2 separate regions of the Homo sapiens genome follow, and region 2 is linked to region 1. The links come from fine-mapping of genetic effects on gene expression. A gene starts in region 1. The other region holds a variant in brackets. All regions are shown on one strand. Distances are from middle to middle.

Evidence for each region.
Region 2: its variant is fine-mapped to the expression of STRBP in testis (GTEx, PIP above 0.99).

What each region holds. Positions count from the first base shown.
Region 1 is chr9:123,263,866-123,273,778 of GRCh38, reverse strand. STRBP (spermatid perinuclear RNA binding protein) reads left to right here and starts at 5,193. Exons shown (of 19, transcript NM_018387.5): 1 at 5,193-5,343. RefSeq lists silencers at 4,768-5,247, 5,418-5,467 and an enhancer at 4,867-5,367.
Region 2 is chr9:122,902,627-122,912,539 of GRCh38, reverse strand. RC3H2 (ring finger and CCCH-type domains 2) reads left to right here and starts at 7,181. Exons shown (of 21, transcript NM_001100588.3): 1 at 7,181-7,430. ZBTB6 (zinc finger and BTB domain containing 6) reads left to right here. Exons shown (of 2, transcript NM_006626.6): 2 at 459-4,484. The coding sequence starts at 468. The coding sequence ends at 1,742. RefSeq lists a silencer at 7,077-7,726. The variant A/T (reference allele first, on the strand shown) is at 4,228.

The sequences.
Region 1 (9,913 bases):
TTGGGTTATTATTACTGGTTGAGATTAGGTGACACTTTTATTCCTTTTTTTCTTTTCTTTTTCTTTTTCCTTTTTTTTTTTTTTTTTTTTTTTGAGACAGAGTTTTCCTCTTGTCACCCAGGCTGGAGTGCAATGGCGTGAACTTGGCTCACTGCAACCTCCGCCTCCTGGGTTCAAGCAATTCTCTTGCCTCAGCCTCCCAAGTATCTGGGATTACAGGTGCCTGCCAACACACCTGGCTAATTTTTTGTATTTTTAGTAGAGACAGGGTTTCACCATGTTGGCCAGGCTGGTCTCGAACTCCTGACCTCAGGTGATCCACCCACCTCAGCCTCCCAAAGTGCTGGGATTACAGGCATGAGCCACAGCACCTGGCCTTTATTCTTTTTTCCTAAAAGGTCTATTTGATTTTTGTTCTTTCTTTCTTTTTTTTTTTTTTTCAAGAGGTTCTGTCACCCAGGCTGGAGTGCAGTGGTGTGATCTTGGCTCCCTGAAAACTCTGTCTCCCAGGTTCAAGTGATTCTCCCACCTCAGCCTCCCAAGTAGTTGGAACTACAGGCATGTGCCACCACACCTGGCTAATTTGTCTATTTTTTGGTAGGGACAAGGTTTCACCATGTTCGCCAGGCTGGTTTCAAATTTCTGGCCTCAAGAGATCCATCCGTCTCGGCATCCAAAAGTGCTGAGATTACAGGTGTGAGCCACTGTGCCAGGCCGAAAAGGTCTACTTTATTTATTTATTTATTTATTTATTTGTTTGTTTGTTTGAGACGGAGTCTTGCTGTGTCTCCCAGGCTGGAGTGCAGTGGCACCATCTTGGCTGACTGTAACCTCCGCCTCCTGGGTTCAAGTGATTCTCCTGCCTCAGCCTCCTGAGTAGCTGGGACTACAGGCACGTGCCACTGCACCCGGCTAATTTTTGTATTTTTAGTAGAGATGGGGTTTCACCATGTTAGCCAGACTGGTCCCTAACTCCTGACCTCAGGCGATCCGCTCACCTCGGCCTCCCAAAGTGCTGGTATTACAGGCATGAGCCCCCGGCACCCAACCAGTCTGTTTGATTTTTTTACAAAAATGTATCAGGCCCTGTGCAGAGGCTCACACCTGTAGTTGCAGCACTTTAGGAGGCTGAGGAGGGAGTATCCCTTGAGCCCAGAGTTTGAGACCAGCCTGGGCAACATGATGAAACCCAGTCTCTACTAAAAAAAATACAAAAAGTTAACCTGGCACAATGGCATGCCTGTAGTCCCAGCTGCTCAGGAGGCTGAGGTGGGAGGATCGCTTGAACCTGGGAGACAGAGGTTTCAGTGAGCCGAGATTGCGCCACTGCACTCCAGCCTGGGTGACAGAACAAAACTCTGTCTAAAAAAAAAGAAGTATCAGATATACCAGAAAAAACAAAAAATAGAGACAGAAAGTAGACTGGTGTTTGCTTGTGGCCAGGGTTGGAAATGGGATTAACACTTAATGAGCATGAGAGTCTTACGGGGGATCCATAAGGTATGCTAAATGTTCTTTTTTTTTTAGACAGAGTTTTCCTCTGTCACCAGGCTGGAGTGCAGTGCCATGATCTTGGCTCACTGTAACCTCTGCCTCCTGGGTTCAAGCCATTCTCCTGGCTCAGCCTCCTGAGTAGCTGGGATTACAGGTGTCCACCACCATGCCCAGCTAATTTTTGTATTTTTAGTAGAGACGGGGTTTCACCATGGTGGTCAGGATGGTCTCGATCTCCTGACCTCGTGATCTGCCCACCTTGGCCTCCCAAAGTGCTGAGCCACCGTGCCCGGCAAGGTATGCTAAATGTTCTGAAACTGACTTATGTTAATGTTGCACCACTTAGTGAAGTTACTGAAAATCATTGGATTGTACATTTTTGAAATGCATAATTTTATGTGTAAACTATACCTCAAGTAAATTGTTAAAAATCTATGTGTGATTACACGCCTGTAATCACAGCACTTTGGGAGGCCAAGGCGGGAGAATCACTTGAGACCAGGAGTTCGAGACCAGCCTGGCCCATCTCTACTAAAAATACAAAAAAAATTAGACGGGTGTGGAGGCACACGCCTGTAATCCCAGCTACTTGGGAGGCTGAGGCAGGAGAATGGCTTGAACCTGGGAGACTGAGGTTGCAGTGAGGCGAGATTGTGCCACTGCACTCCAGACTGGGTGACAGAGTGAGACTCTGTCTCAAAACAAAACAGGCTGGGCACGGTGGTTCACGCCTGTAATCTCAACACTTTGGGAGGCCGAGGCGGGCAGATCATTTGAAGTCAGGAGTTCAAGACTAGCCTGACCAACATGGTGAAACCTCATCTCTACTAAAATACAAAAATTAGCCAGGCATGGTGGCAGGCGCCTGTAATCTCAGCTACTCAGGAAGCTGAGGCAAGAGTATCACTTGAACCCAGGAGGCAGAGGTTACAGTGAGCCAAGATTGCGCCACTGCACTACAGCCTGGGCGACAGAGCAAGACCCCTCTCAAAAACAAAGCAAAACAAAAATCTGCATATGTATCCTTAAAAAATTAAAACAATGCAGAAATTTTTAAGTCCTCCATCCCCACACCCAGTTCTATCTTCCAGGCATAACCAATAGTGGTTGGTGTTTAATCCTTTCTGACGTTTTTCTATGGAGAATCCAACATACACATTACAGATAAATAATTTTCTGCAACTTTCTTTTTTCTTTGGACATGTAATGAGGGACATGAAAAATTAACAGTAACTACTCTGGAGTTGGGATTGGGGTAGTGGGAGTGGAGTCAAGGGCAGGAAGGGAGAGAGACATTAACTTTTTTTTTGAGACGGAGTTTCGCTCTTGTTGTCCAGGCTAGAGTGCAATCACGGGATCTCGGCTCATTGCAACCTCTGCCCCCCGGGTTCAAGCGATTCTCCTGCCTCAGCCTCCCGAGTAGCTAGGATTACAGGTACACACCAACACGTCCGGCTAATTTTCGTATTTTTAGTAGAGATGGGGTTTTGCCCCATTGGCCAGGCTGGTCTTGAACTCCTGACCTCAGGTGATCCACACGCCTCGGCCTCCCAAAAGTGCTAGGATTACCAGCGTGAGCCACTGCGTCTGGCCTAACTTTTTACTTTCTTTCCTTTTATATAATTTGCATGCTTTTGTCTCAGTGTTTGGAGTTACAAACCCAATAAAGATATTGAAACAAGAAATACTATTGAATCCTTAATGCCATGCTGTTCTTCTATTTTAAAAAAATTAAAAATGTAACCAAGTGCTGGACACCGTGCTGAGTGCCTTAGATATACGGTTGCAATGAATCCTTCTAACAACCCTACAATATGCAATACTATTAGTCTCACTTGGCAGATGAGTAAACTTAGACTAGAGAGATTGATTTTCCAAGATCACACAGCTAGTGTGCAGTGAATCTGGATCTTTACAGTGTGGCGCCTCTTCTCCCTCTGATACTTATGGGCATCCTACAAAACCCAGCTTTAATGATCTCATGTCATGTGCACGTGTAGTCTTCCCTAACACACTTAGGCAGGAAGATGACCCTGTCCTCAAGGGACTGAGAGACCAGGGAGGAGACAGACAGCTAAACAATTACAATCTAGTGCCATGAGAATACATATAGCTTAACAGGACTATGTTCAAGCCGAGGGAGCTTAGACCATGTGTCTGAGGCAGCCAAGGATCTCCAGAGAATATACTCTGAGCTGATTGATAAGGATACCCAGGATTTTTTTCAGGAGGGTCAAGGAAGGTGTGAGTGGTCAGAGGTGGGGAGAGGGTTTAGAAAGGGATTTGCGGCCTGGCATCTGTCTCAGGAGACTCAGGCTCCTACACACCTGGGCATACTCTGGAAACAACAGTACTGTAGTTCTGTGTGGCTGGAGGGTCACATTGGCCTGAAGGAGGGGCAAAGGGAAGGGCGTGCACCTTGAAGCTTAAGGCCAGATCACCAAGGCCTTTTCAGTTGAAATTGGGTTTTTTACACTTTATTCTGTGAATGAAACAGAGCTGTTAAAATATTTGAGCCTGGTGTGTTAGAAAGATGAAAAGGGGCCCCAAGGGGGCTGTTGTGGGGAGTCCCTCCTCAACCCCTGGGCTGTTCAAGGTCCTCTGTCTTGGCACTGAGTGGTCAGGTCGTTTCTGCTCCAGGCTGGGAATTGTCTTAGGGCAAAGACATTGTCTCATTTGCCAGTGCATCCCTGCAGCCTGCAAACCCCCCGGTATACAGCAGGGACTGTATACTGGCAAGCAGAATGCTGGGCACCAAGAACTTGAGGCCAGGGACTGTAGAATAGAAAGCGAACCTTTAATTCTTCCCCAGCGCCGCCCCTGGCACAGAGCTGGTAGGTGTTCAGCCAAAGTCTGACCCAACCATAAGGAGGTCAGAGAGGTCCTGGGCCCAAACTCAATCCCAGCGAGGTTCATTATAGGCAGGTGAAGGAGAGGTGATTGTAGCAGCTTCTGTTCAGCGACTGCTGTGTGCCAGGATTCACACCTATTGTCTTATGCCATCTCCCCAACAGCTCCTAAATTGGAATTATTGTCCCAGTTTTCCTGATGAGGAAACTGAGGCTCAGAACGGTTCTTGGTAACTTGGCCAAGGTCACACAGCCAGCAAGTAGGTGGGCGGTGGCACAAGTCAAAGCCTACTGGCCTGCCCCTCTACCTCGGGAGGCAGTGCGACGCCTACTCCATTTGTGTGGCTGCTGGGGTTGGGGGGCATCCCGCACTGGGGTGCGGGGCCCGGGGAAGGCGGCTAGCCGCCGCGGCTCGGCGCAGCTCCCAGGTTCGGAAGTTACGAAGTTTCCGTGCATTTCGCTAGCCTCCCAGCGCAGCTCGTCTCCGCTCCGCCGCAGTTACGCCGCTAGCGCAGCGGGGCTCAGGTGCTGCAGCGAGCGGGGGCCTGGGGCCGGGAGGAAGGCGGGGACGCAGTTTACGTAAGCGTCCGCTGGCAGGTGCATAAGGCCGCCGGCGGCGAGTGCTCCCTGCGCGCTCCCAGGTGCGCACTTGGCGCAGGCGGCGGCACAGCAAGGCGGCGGCGGGCGCTGGCCGGCGCTCTCAGGTGCGGCAGGACGCGCGTGGAGGGGGCGCGCGGCGAACGAGGGGGCGGGCTTTCCGTTCCCCAGCAGCCGCGGGGCCCGCCCCCTGGCCTGGCCAATGGGCGCGCTCGACGGTGTCACGTGCTCGCTGCCGCCGCTGCCGCCGCCGAAGCGGAGACCGGAGCCGCGAGCGCCACCAGGGCAGCAGCCGCCGCAGCCGCCGCCGCTGGGCAGAGGAGCCGGAGACGCGAGCGGGCGAGGTGGCGGCGGCGGCGGAGCGGGAGCGGGTACCGGGCGCGGGCAGAGCGCGGCGGCGCGGGTAGGCTCCGGCGGCGGGGCGGGCGCCTGCGCGGCGGGCCGTCCCGGGCGGGCGGCGGTTAAGGCGGCGGTTGAGGCGGTTGGCGGAGCCGGCCCGGGCCCCGCATTGTTTGTTGTGCGTCCTTAGCAGCGGCGGCGGCGGTGGCGGCCGAGGCGGAGAGCAGGGAGCAATCCCGGCCCCGCGGCTCCGGCATTGTGGCCGCCGCCGCCGCCGCTGCGGTGCCCCGGCCGCTTCGGGCAAGGGCAGCGGGCAGCCTTCCTCACCTTCGCGGGGACGGGGTCCCGGCCGATCAGGGGAGGGCGTGGGCAGGGTTGGGGGACGCGGTGCCGGGAGGTCTTCCGGGACGGAGGGCTCGGGGCTCGGGGCAGGTGTTGGAGGACATTGGGGGCAGGAGCTGGGGAGAGGCTTCGGGGGGCAGGCGGAAGGTGTGGGCAGATTTGGGGGTAAATAGGGGTGCAGAGGGATCCGGCCCAATGGAGGAGGAGAGCCTTCAGGCAGGTTTGGGGGGCCCCCTGGGCCAGGCGAGTGCGAGATGGAGGACATTCCGTCCGGTGGGGGGGGGCACTATATTGTGGGGTTCAAGAGGGAATGAGGGGGCTTTTGGGGAGGGCAGGGACGAGTGGGGTGGGAATGGAGGGAGAAGACTGGGGACTCGAGCAGGACTGGAAGGAGCGCTGCGTGCCAGGGGCAGGGAGTGGGGCGGGTATTAGGAAGGCCACCGGGACGCCCGTGAAGGGGAACGATGGAGGAGGGGGTCGGGGCAGGGGGAAGTGAGGGCAGGCAGGGAGCGCCTGAAAGGGAGGGAGGGGAGCAGGGTGCCTAGGCTTCTGGGGTGATAGGGAAATGAAGGGTAGGCCCAGGGGCTCCAGGAGACCTGCGAGGGGTGTGAGGGAGTGTGTGGCCAGGTGTATAGGGGAGCCTGCAGGGAGGCGGGAGGGGGTTGACATGTAAGGATAAAAAGGCAGGTATCTGGTGCTCAGGGAAGAGGAGTATGGGGTGGAAGGGGGAAGTTCATTGGGGCAGAGACTTAGTTTGAGGGCTTGCAGAGAGAGGTGGGGACAGTAGGAGAAGGGTGATGGGGATGGAGAGCAGGAGGTGTGTGGGGCATTTAAAGGATAGCGGGAGAAGTGCGTGAAATGGAGGGTGTTTATGCAGGAAGTATGGAAGAAGGTGGGATCAGCAAGAGAGGGAATTTTGAGGTAGGACGGAGGGTGAGGGGTTCTTGGCAAGTGTTGGAGGACGTTAGGGGCAGGAGCTGGGGGAGAGGGACAGGTGTGGGGTGGCGTGGAGTGTGTGAGGTGGAGGGCAAAAGGGGGTGGGGAAAGGGAAGTGTTCTTGGAGTGGCAGGTAAAGTGTGGGGACAAATGGAAGGAAAGATTTCTGAGGCGGGAAGTGTGGAGCGGTTGGGGAGGAGGAAGGTGGAGGGGAGGGTGAGAACGAAATCAGTAGAGGGGGACAACGGGATAGACTGGAGGGGAAGGTGGACAGGTCTGGAGTACAGTAGGTGGAGGGAGGGAAGCACAGGTTTGGGGCACTGAATTTTGTGCTGTAGGGAGAAGGGAGGTAGGGAGAAAGAAGGAAGGTAGACAGGCTATTTTGGGGTAGAGGATGTAGAAGAATGCTTAATACCTATAGTGGAGTAAGGGAAGGGCAAGGCAGAGGTGTATGTGGACATGTCTGTAACTAGAAAGGCATAGGTGATGGATTGGAGTGGTGGTGGTGGTGGTGGGGGAAATAGGATGCCCAGGTTTAGGGCAGGAAATGACTGCTTAAGTTGGAGAGAGCTAGGAACACAGGTTGCTTAAGAGAGTATGGAAGATCCAAGGAGTGGAAGTATGGGGAGAGATTGGAACACTTTGAGTTTGAGAGATGAAAGGGGCCAAGATTTTTAGGTCACTGAGAGTCTAAGGAAGATCAGGCAGAGTGCAGAAGTTGGAAAAATAACTAAATGGAGAGGATTAAATTCCATACTGAGAGAAACTGGAGATTGAGGGGTGGGGGGACCTGGATCCTGGAATGATGTTAATGGAAAGTGGAGGACATTAAACTCAGTGTCATATCTGAAAGTTCATACTCCTAGGGTCAGAGAGATCGTTGAGCCTGCTTTTAATTCCAGAACCCAGTAAATGAGGAAGGGGGAAGGGGTAAGGGAGAGCTGAGTGCACATCCCCAAATTTGGGAGAGGTGTGTAGTGGGTATCATCCTAGCATATTGGTTTGACGAGTGGACAGAAGGGCCACACAGGGTCACGAGGAGCGCACCAAGAGTGAATGGAAATGGGATTGCAGCAGGTGCAGGGCAGATGTCTTTGTGAAACTGGAAGAGACCAGGCCCAGTGGCCAGTAGCATTCAAGGGCTATGCATAAGAGAGGAAGAAAGGGATACCTTGGTGCAGTGTCTCAGATACCCTGGTGCTTTCTGGGTAATGGGTCAGTATTCAGGCAGCATGGGGTGATGTAATATCTGAGTCCCATGCTATAGGCAGACAGAAGTAATGTACACCTAGCTCCTAAAAGTGGCAGAATTGGAGCTTTCTGACTCTTAACACTCTTTCAAGGCGTGAATAACTGATCTGGATTGTTGACTTTTTCTCCCAAATGGTTCAGGTAAAATTTAGTTGGAGGCTTTTGGATTCTCTGGTATTTTGATTTGAGTTGGGAAGTGTAATGTTAGCTTTATTGAGGAAAGACACTTATGGGTTGGGCGGACATATGGCCTTCAGCTTGCCAAACACATGGGAAGTAACCTTTAGGGGTTTGAACACAGACATTTATTTCAGTGCAAGTCTCATTCACTGTTCTGTGGCTTGTGTTAGATTCTTAGGGGTTTGAAAGGATTAAGCAAACTACTTTGAGACTGCTTCAGTAAGCAAGGTTTCCTAGAATCTTGGAAAACGATTTCCCTTTTGACAGTTGAAAATTAAGTCTTGTCAGATTTTGCTAAGAAATAAATTTCATCATGTTGCAGAAATAACTTCAATTATCACTCTGTGGGCTTCACGTAATGTGTAGTGTGGTACCTAGTATGATTTCAAATAAAAGGTTCGCTTTGGTAGCTTGGGAGCTTTCTGGGTTGATTAGTTTTCTTCTTTTGTCGATTTAGGAAGTATCTTAATGCAGCCATTGTATGTTCGAATAATAAGTTTGAGTGGAAGTGGGAATCTTGCCTAAACATAATGAGGGCGGAGCAGAACACCAAATTTTAAGTAATCGGAATCCGTTAATATAAATATTAAAAAAAAAACCTGGAAGCAAATGATTCGTAAAATCCAAATTTGAAGTGTGTCATGGCAGCAAAAGAATGCTCTGAAGGCATTACTGTAAGATTTTATTTTTGGAGGGAAAGATTTTTAGAGTATAATGTCCCTTCGATTGAAACTCTGAGTATTTTGAGATTTGATATATGTATACAATATAATATAGGGAGCATGTCTGACCTCATTTGCTTTTTGGCAGAGAATTTGAGCAGTAGGATATAAGATGAATAGAGTGAGCTTTGAAAGTTCTCTCCAACATAGCCATTGTTTCCTCCTTATATTTCTTAAGTCCATTGTGTTCATTTTATTGACTTGGGGTGCGCACTACTTTCTTGCTCAGAATACTCAATTCTGGTATAGTGTTCGGATTATATGTATTGTTCAGTGAAATTCTATGAATTGGGACAATTTGTAGGCACTTTAGATATCCTAAGTTTACGAACCAAGGAAAGCAGGTTATTTAGGCTTTGTAGGCTGAATAATTGGGTTCTGGTTTTATTTTCGCTGGTGACTTGCTGGACAAGATATTTAATCCCTTTGTGCTGGTTTCTTCTCTAGAAATCTGACTCTATCCATCTCCCATGAGAATCAAGGTGGTTTATATAAAACAAGTTTAAGTCTTTCGGGAAGACTGGAGCTACGTAAATACGGGGATAGATGTTACTTAGTTTCTTTTTTCTCCCCTGTGGTTTTTAGACTGGTCAAATGTTAGTACTTCGTAATTTACCATTAGGTGGATTAATTTGTTGTGTGAAAGTTGGATAGAGATGAAACTTATGTGAAAGAGATGTCTGCAAATTGAAGTTTGTTCATTCTTTGCTGTCTGCTTACCTTTCCAATTTCTCAGCTAAGTGTTAGTGCTGGTTTGAATTCTTCAGCCTGAGCAGAAGCTTGTGAGAGACATTGGGTTCTAGCTATAGCCCAAGATTGTTTCTAAGCAGGAATTTCCAGAGACAGAGGCCTTCTTTGGCTCAGTGAATTCAATTCTTTTTTTGGGGGTGGGGAATGCAGTGGCGCTCTGTCGCCAGGCTGGAGTGCAGTAGCACAATCTCGGCTCACTGCAAACTCCGCCTCCCGGGTTCAAGTGATTCTCCTGCCCCAGCCTCCCGAGTAGCTAGGACTACAGGTGCCCGCCACCACGCCCAGCTAATTTTTTGTATTTTTAGTAGAGGCGGGGTTTCACCATGTTGGCCAGGACGGTCTCGATCTCTTGACCTTGTGATCCACCCGCCTCGGCCTCCCAAAGTGCTGGGATTACAGGCGTGAGCCATCGCGCCCAGCCAAATTCAATTCTTATATCAGAAATAATAAACA
Region 2 (9,913 bases), 360 kb after region 1:
ATTGCAGTTGTCCAGGTGAACCGGAAGGAGGACCTGTTGTAGTGGTGGGGAGTAGGAAGTTTGGAGATTACGTTAAAGTTGCTAATTGGATATATTATGTTAAATCAACTTTTTGGTGGTCACAGTGCTTATATTGGATATTCAAAATTGATAGATTGTTCTTGACCACAAGGCACACAACATTTAGCAAAAGAAACAAGCTAGAAACTGTTCACTACAATTCATTGTAATGAATGTTGTAACAAAGTTATGAAAAATGTGCTATGAGATCATAGAGAAGTGCATTATAAAGTTCTCGTTTTGAGATGGTGGCATAAAGGTTCATAACACCTACATTAGACTTTGAGTCTTCTTCTTCCTAATTCAGGTTTGGGGTTTTTCGTTTGTTTTCACCATTACAGCATGGGAAAGCATTCCCTATCCTTATTACATCAATGTTTGTGTTTTATTTTGCTTAGATTGTGATCATGGCTGCTGAGTCTGATGTTCTGCATTTCCAGTTTGAACAGCAAGGAGATGTGGTCTTGCAGAAAATGAATCTTTTGAGACAGCAGAATTTATTTTGTGATGTATCAATTTACATTAATGACACTGAGTTCCAGGGGCACAAGGTGATTTTGGCTGCTTGCTCCACTTTTATGAGAGATCAGTTTTTACTCACACAGTCAAAACATGTCAGAATCACCATCTTACAGAGTGCAGAAGTTGGCAGAAAATTGTTACTGTCTTGCTATACTGGAGCACTTGAAGTTAAAAGGAAAGAGCTTTTGAAATACTTGACTGCTGCCAGTTACCTTCAGATGGTTCACATTGTGGAAAAGTGCACAGAAGCTTTGTCAAAGTATCTGGAAATTGATCTTTCTATGAAAAACAACAACCAACACACTGACCTGTGTCAGTCTTCTGATCCTGATGTTAAGAATGAAGATGAAAATTCTGATAAAGACTGTGAGATAATTGAAATTTCAGAAGATAGTCCTGTAAACATAGATTTCCATGTTAAAGAAGAGGAAAGCAATGCTTTGCAGTCTACAGTAGAGAGTCTGACATCAGAGAGAAAGGAAATGAAGTCACCAGAGCTGTCTACAGTAGACATAGGTTTTAAAGACAATGAAATTTGTATCCTTCATGTAGAATCCATCAGTACAGCTGGTGTCGAAAATGGGCAGTTTTCACAGCCTTGTACCTCTTCAAAAGCAAGCATGTATTTCTCTGAAACACAGCATTCATTGATCAATTCTACAGTTGAGAGCAGAGTGGCTGAAGTTCCTGGGAATCAAGATCAGGGCTTATTTTGTGAGAATACTGAAGGAAGTTATGGTACAGTGAGTGAGATTCAGAATCTGGAGGAAGGTTATTCACTGAGGCACCAGTGCCCCAGGTGTCCTCGAGGCTTTCTTCATGTTGAAAACTATCTGCGCCACCTTAAAATGCATAAACTATTCTTATGCTTACAGTGCGGAAAAACATTTACACAGAAGAAAAATCTCAACCGACACATCCGAGGACACATGGGCATACGGCCCTTTCAGTGTACTGTGTGCTTGAAGACATTTACTGCCAAAAGCACACTTCAGGACCACTTGAACATACACAGTGGGGATCGGCCATACAAATGCCACTGTTGTGATATGGATTTCAAGCACAAGTCTGCTCTCAAAAAGCACTTAACCTCTGTCCATGGCAGAAGCAGTGGTGAAAAACTATCTAGGCCTGATCTCAAAAGGCAAAGTCTACTATAATTATAATCACAGACTTGTTATATAAAGTTTGTATTATTCTATTACGCAAGTCTTTCTGTAGAGATGCAGCATTTGTAATATTTCATCCCCCCAATCTTTGTTTCTTATATTTTGTCGGCTTACACATAATCATTCTTTCTGAACTTCTAACAGTTCCAAAGTTATGGGAGGCACAGTAAAGCTGATGGGATTCTGTCTCATCTCATACCTTACATATAAGTCTCAGTAGTATCCCTAGAGAAATAGTGTTCCTCTCTTATATATTCTTGATTCTAGTGACAAAGGATCCAGCAGTATTTGCAGATTCCGATTTGGAGTCTCTAGGTAATTGATTTAAGTATAAAATCCAATCATATAAAAACTTTAATGAATTAGGATAACAAGAAGAGAAAATAAAGGTAAAAACACTATTACCTGTTTCTAGTCACTTTAGAACAGATGGCACTAAAAAAATTTTTTTTTAACTTTTTACCAGCTGTTCTTGGATTCCAAACTAAACACCAAGATACTTTTCATTTTAAAATGTATAAAGTAACAATTCAGATTCACTTGGGAATAGCAGAATTTTTTTATACAGGGTTAATAATCCTTAAAATACTTTTATTTCCATGCCTTATTAGTATACATACTTAAGAAATGGTTCATTGGGCCCGAGTTTCTTGATTTTATTTAATACAATCGGATTTAATAATTTTGTGGCCAGTAAAATTATACCATTGGCATGAAGCTGTGAAAAATGAGAAATTCTACCTTTACCAGGGATATCTGTTCTACTGTTTTAAAAGTTCCTCTCTATTTTATTTTTTATTTAACATGAAGTAAAATTGAAATTTCTTCTTGGTGTATAGTTCTGTGAATTTTAACAGAAAGATTTGTGCACCACTACTGCAGTCGGTACAGAACAGTTCCTTCACTCCCAATAGCTCTCTTATGCTGTCCCTTTGTAGTCAGCTCCTTCTAGCTCTAATCCTGGCAACAGTTCTCCGTCACTATTATTTTGCCTTTTCTGGACTGTCATATAAACAGAATCTTATAGTACGTTCCCTCTTGAAATGCTTTTTCACCCAGCATAATGACTTTGAGGTTCATCCATGTCATTTTAAATTTTGAATTGGCAATATATATTCTAGCTGTTACTAGATGAGCAATTTAAAAAGGTGTAGCTATTAGTGTTGTATTTTTTCATTTACATTAATGTAATTTCCATTCACTATGTGTTGATAAAAATCTTAACCATCCCTAGAGTTTTATATTTCCAAAAATATGCCAAAAGGAAAACTATGACTGTATGATTATTTTAGCGAGAGTCATATTTGAGATGGTGTTCTGAGCCATAGTTCTCTAACATCTCCGTCTACATATAACACAAAACTTTTATAAATTATTTTAACAAAGATTAAAATATACTGCAGGGCAAATAATATTCTCTAAAACACAGGAACTGCTTTTCGTAAAGAAGACTGACTAGATGCATCTTTCTTTGAAGCTGTTCTAGTCCTCCTCTAGTTAACTTAGCTTTATGTAGAATTTCTACTGTATTTAATTTCTATTGAAGCCCTTCTGTATTTTAAAATGTAATATACTTTGTACCATTTATAAAAATTGTGTGATGAATGAATCACATGTTCGTTGTTATAAGTGTTAACCTTTTTTTGACAATTTTGTGGGAAAGACATTCTCCACTGAATTTTAACTTTCCTTGAGACTTTCAAGAATGCAGGTCTCGTTTGATGAAAAAACCGACTTCATAACCCAATGTTACTAGTTAGCGACATTGTGCTGAATTTCTCCTTGAACTTTTTAACTTTATATGTAAAATAACTTTGATCTTGGTCATTTGAAAGATCATTTCCAGGTCTAAAATTCCATGATTTTGTATTTAATTCTTCCTGAGAACAGAAGAGGGGAAAGCAAGAGAGGACGGTTTTGTGTCTTTATGAACTTTGTTACTTAAGTACTCCATTGGAGACATAATTTTTCTAATTAGTGGATCTTTTTCCACTGGAAAGTGTGATAGCTCATTGCTAATTTTTCATTCATAGTTCATTGCTTCCATTTGACCTAAGATTGGCCATTTGTTGGTGTGAAAATATTTTCTTTTCAGAAATAGTTTACTAGTGATTGAAGTACTTTTCTTATTTTTGCTTCCTATTATAAAATGGCGTGGGGGGAAGGGGGAAGGATGGAGATGGGAGGAGAGGGTAAAAGAATAGTACTCTGATTTTTTAAGAATTAGTATCTACTATCTTGGATATTTGAAAAAAAATTGGTTGAAACTATGTTTAAGTTTTATGTGTGCCTTGTAAGATTGTTGTAAAATTTTTTGTGAGCACTTTGAGATTTTTGCTGGGGGAGGGGTGTTTTGTGAAAGTGATGGTTATTATTTATATTATTTATTCCTGTTCAGTAGCACGGAATGATCTCCAAACATTCCTAGGAGAGTGTCTGTTTGCATGATATGTCTAAAAATTTTCAGGAAAATGGA[A/T]TCTTTTTTTAAAGTTCAGGTATGACAAAGTATAGAATTTATTCATTTAACATATTCACATTTAGTTTATGTTTCTGATATGACAGAAAAATGAAAAGTGTTTGAGTTCAGCCTCTTCATTTACTCCATTTACATATAAAAGATCTTGAAAAGGTAGTTGTTACTTCGTTGTCAGAGAAAAACACTTGCCCTTTTTCCTGGGATGTAACTATCTTACATGTTTACATAAGAAATAATAAACTGGAGGTGGGAATGGAGAACAATGTGTTTTGTCTTCATCTTTGAATTTTAAAGGATACAATTTAAAGGATACAATTTCTCCTGACTATACATTAATCATTCATCTAGCAAATACTTCCTGAGTCCTTACAATGAAATATAAGTTAGGTATACAGACAAAAATTCCTGCTCTTGTGAAACATCTTAGTGAAGGGAGACAAACAGTAAACAAGTAAGTAAAATCCATGTATGTCAAATTTTGAGAAGGAATTTGGAGAAAAATCAGGAATAGGGAGTACCAGAGAAGGGGGATGGAATTGCAATTTTAAATATGGTGGTCAGCGCCGGGCGCCGAGGCTCAGGCCTGTAATCCTAACACTTAGGGAGGCCGAGGCTGGCAGATCACTTGAGGTCAGGAGTTTGAGACAAGCCTGGCCAACCTGATGAAAACCCTTCACTAAAAATACAAAAATTAGCCGGGCATGGTAGCGCTTGCCTGTAATCCCAGCTACTCGGGAGTCTGAGACAGGAGAATCCGTTGAACCTGGGAGGCAGAGGTTGCAGTAAGCCAATATCGCACCGCTGCAGTCAGCCTAACTGAGGGAGCAAGACCCCATCTCAAAAATAAATATGGTGACCAGGACACCTTTGAAAAATCTCGGATTATCAGAAATATATATTCTTCTGTCTAGTGAAATGTAAATATATCCAGTAGAATAGAAAAATTTGGCCTGGACTGGTGGCTCACGCCTGCAATCCCAGCACTTTTGGAGGCCGAGGCAGGCGGGTCTTCTGAGGTCAGGAGTTCAAGACCAGCCTGGCCAACATGGTGAAAACCCGTCTCTACAAAAATACAAAAAAGAAATTTAGCCGGGCATGATGACGGGTGCCTGTAATTCCAGCTACTGGGGAGGCTAAGGCAGGAGAATTCCTTGAACCCAGGAGGTGGAGGTTGCAGTGAGCTGAGATCACACCATTGCACTCCAGCCTGTGTGACAGAGTGAGACTCCGTCTCAAAAAAAAAAATATGTACATATATGTATATATAATGTGTATGTTTATATGTGTATATATACTTATATGTATCTATATATGTGTATATATATTTATATGTATGTATATATGTATATATGTGCATATATGTATATATGTGTGTATATATATATATACACAGTAGGGTGGAAAACAAATATGTACATGTAAATTACCTATCACTGTCCAGTTGAAATTACTGAAACAATTATTGGTTGTTAACAGTTCTCTAGGCCTGGCATATGTTTCATAAAGAGAAGAGAACGAAAAAGATAATGTGTGGAAGAAACGTCTTCGATGTGGCCAATGAATCTTTTTTCAAAAACACTGATTTTTGCCTGTCATTCAGACAAATATAATAGGTAATAACTATATATTTTGTTAAAACTGTAGAAGCAACCTTTCCATATTCTAATTTATCGTAGGTTTACTTCGATATTTTTGTTGTTGGGCATCTGATTTCACATTGGAAAGTGCCTTGAGTTTAATTACAAGTCATGGTCATTTTTTTTCTTCTTTTTTTTGTTGAGACGGAGTCTGGCACTGCCCCCCCGCCTGGCTGTAGTGCAATGGCGCGGTCTCGGCTCACTGCAACCTCCGTCTCCCGGGTTCAAGTGATTCTCCTGCCTCAGCCCCCCGAGTAGCTGGGATTACAGGTGCCCGCCACCACACCCGGCTAATTTTTGTATTTTTAGTAGAGCCAGGGTTTCACTATGTTGGCCAGACTGGTCTCTAACTTCTGACCTGGCGGTCCACCCGCTTCGGCCTCCCAAAGTGCTGGTATTACAGGCATCAGCCACCGCGCCCGGCGTCATGGTCATTTTCTAGCCTACATTCTTTAGTTTCTCATCAGTAACAAGGGGTACATTGTATCTGTCTTCTAGGATCACTTTGCTAATTAAATGAAATGTAAATAAAACTAAAATATTTAAAATTAAATATCACCTAACACAGGACCTGCCTGACACATACTAAGTAGTTTATAAATGTTAATTCTGATATCCCTATTCCAAGTCTGTTTCATCTATAAATTATAAACTGTAAGAATAATTCTTACCTTAGTTCGCTGTGTAAAAAGCTTCAACAAATATTTGAGATATGATGCCAGAATTTGTGCTTAAATTTTTTATTTTTGCCAGCTTTTGAGGAGCTCAGAGCTTTCTTCCCCCCCTCCCCCCCCCACTTTGGACTCTTTGTCTAGAAACAGAGTTTTCTCTTTAATAAAGAAGTGAGATGTGGAAGTGCCTGCCAAATACATGTTTTCTTCTTGTTTTTGTAATGGGGAGATTACTTGACATCTTTGTAAAGGGATTGAGGGATCCTGTCGGCATGTCATCACAGGAGTGTGAAGAAGAATGTGACACAGATGTATCAGATTCTGCTCAATGGATTCCACGCTTTTCACGAAGGGAGTTAAGACACTCGCTCAAACCAGCGTCTAGGAAGCCGGCTCAAGGCGCAGATGAATGTGCAGGGAATTTCCCATCAATCCCTTCGGCTTGCCTAGTCCTTCTCACAGTACCTCCCACAGTGCTCCGGGGCTCCCTTGTCACGTGATCGGGGTGGATCCGCTGAGGCAGAGGGAAGTTGATTCGCAGTTTGGGTGGCTGGGGCTACTACGCTTTCCTTCCAACTCCCGACTCCCGGGCTTGCGTAATCTCGCGTTAAGTGGGGAGTAACTTCTCGCGAGAGCTAGATCGGGATCCCTCCAGGTCCGCCTCCGTGGTGAGGAGGAGGAGGAGGAGGAGGCGGAGGTGGAGGGAGGAGGAGGAGGCCCCGTCGCGGCCTTCGCCGCCGCCAACGGGGCTGTCCCTGTAGCTCCCGATGGAGTTTGAGGTCGTGAAACCTCCGCCGAGCTCTGCCCCGGCGAGACGAGGCGCCTCCGTCGCCAAGCCGCGCCGTCGCGGGGCTCCCGGGAGCGGCCCTTAGCGACCCCGCCCGGGCCCCCTCAGGTAGGGCGGGGGCGGGCACGATGCGGCTCGGGCCCCAGCCCGGGTGCCTGGTCCCCGGCGGTCGGGCGGGAGACCAGTCTCAGCCCTGGGGCCTGTGCGCTGTCGCCCCTGGTGCCTCGAGGGTTGGGAACTGAGGGCCGCACCTGACACTCGGATGGAACCCGGGCCCTGCGGAGGCCCCTCTCTCTGGTAGGGCTTTTTCGATGCGGAGCGACCGGCTCAAATGGCCACCTTCCTTCGACACTGGCCGAGCGGACGCCTCTGACCCCTAACGAACCCACCCAAGCAAAGGCCCGGCTTCACTCTCCCTTTTCTACACCAGTTAGTAAGGGGGTTTGGAAGAGGTCCTCGAAACCAAGTCTTCTCCTAGCTTTTCAGCTTTCTGCCCTGGGGCTTCCCGAGACCCTAGCGTAGAGGGTGGTGGAGGCGATCTGAGTGGTAAATAGGAACCCCGGCCAAACAATGCCCTGGGAGGGCTTAACCTCCCAGGATGGGGACGGCCGGACCTGAGTGGTTGCACAGGGGTTGTGGCTAGGAGCAATGGCATGAAACACAGCCAGGAAATTCTGCTATGGCTTTCTTCTTTCCCTCTCTCATTTTTCCTTTTTGGTGTAGCCTCTTGAGGAGACTCTTCCACCATCTTAGAAGAATGGTAGAAAGCATCTTTGTTTCCCAGAGAAGCAGCTGTACTTTTTTCTATCCTTAGCTTTCAGGATGGGAGAAGATGAGGGTAGCTGTCATTTCCATCCTTCAAATCCCAAGGCAGCCGTTTAAGATACCGGCAGATAAATCCTTCACACCAAAATTGACTCAAGTAATCACTGGCATAAAGTAAATCTAATCCAGTGATTTATTTATATTTTCATAACCCTTGGGTTCCCTTTTTAATTCCTCCTCTCCCCTTACCCACGGCCTTCCTTTTTTTCATTTCTACTCTCCCCCTACCCATTGTGGGTGGGTGAGTTTGTATCCCAAATAAAGTGCTTTAAGTAATCTTTTTTCCAATTTTGTATTGGCCAAACTTTTAAGTTCCAGTAGGAACTTTTGGTTAACCTGAGAAAGCTAACGTTGCTATACCACAGTGGTATAAAGTCACTCAAAAGCAAAGAAACAAATGTTAGCCAGTGCAGCCTTTTAATGGTTAAACATACAAACTTAGTTAAAAGCTTTTTACGATATTAAGAATATTAATAGATTCTCCTTTTTAAAAAACCTTTTAGCTGTCTAAAAAGCTATACCACTGTTGTAGCTTCACATGCCTTTCTTACGTTGTTTACTTCCACGTTCAATTTTTGAAGAAATAGAGGTCGTTACATCCTGTTAAAGACTGCTTTTCAATATTGACATTTTCGTTGATTTGGAGATTAATGTTTTCAAAATTTTAGAGTTTGGAAAATTGCTAGGAGGACAGAATGTGAAACATATTCTAGTTACGTTTAGAAAAAGCAGATGTTATAATTCAAACAGGCACTTGTTCTATGAGGATTTAATTACACTCGTGTTCATTAGTGGATCCTTTGAGTTACCCCTGATCTGTTATTTCTGTTGTGGTAACCTGACATGTAAGAAGACTTACGTCCTTTGTTCATATATTTTTGTTAAATCATACTCTGCTTTTGTAATTTGCTGTCTTCCACTTTGAAAAAACCAAAAATTTGCATTTTGGCAAAGCATTCTTCTTTACACTCAGGATTTTATATTCAAAAGTTGAACTTCTACATTGTTTGCAATAGCTAAGAACGCTAAAAAAAACTTCATAACAAGGTTTTAGTAACTACTTACTGTTTAGTTTGTACCGTGTTGAAGTTTCACTTTTTAGTGATGGAAAAAGGAAGCATGGGTAAAATAAAGCTAGCTGAAAATTAAAAATAAGTTCATGTTTTGCATCCAGTCTCATGAATGTTATGATCAGCGTCTCTAATTTTACTAAAGCTTTAAGTGTAAGTGTGAGTTTTACCTCAATTTCCTGATAAAAGTTCTAAGTATTACTTTATAATTTAAATATTCTAGAGTTGCACTGTCCAGTACTAGCCAGTGGCCACATGTGACAGTTGAAGATTTGAAATGTGGCTTCTGTGAATTGAGATGTGCTTTAGGTGTAAAATACCAGATTTCAAAGACTTAGTACCAAGATTTTTTTTAATATCTCAGTAATTTTAATATTGACAACATGTTGAAATGATATTTTGTATAAACTGGGATAAATAAAATATATTACTAAAAATAATTTTAGCTATTTTAACTTTTTTTTTTTTTTTTTTGAGACAGTCTCTCTCTATCACCCATGCTGGAGTGCAGTGGCACCATTCGGGTTCACTGCAACCTCTGCTTCCAGGTTCAAGCAATTCTCATGCCTCAGACTCCTGAGTAGTTGGGATTACAGGAAGGCACCACTACACCAGGCTAATTTTTGTATTTTTAGTAGAGATGGGGTTTTGCCATGTTGACCAGGCTGGTCTGGAACTCATGACCTCAAGTGATCC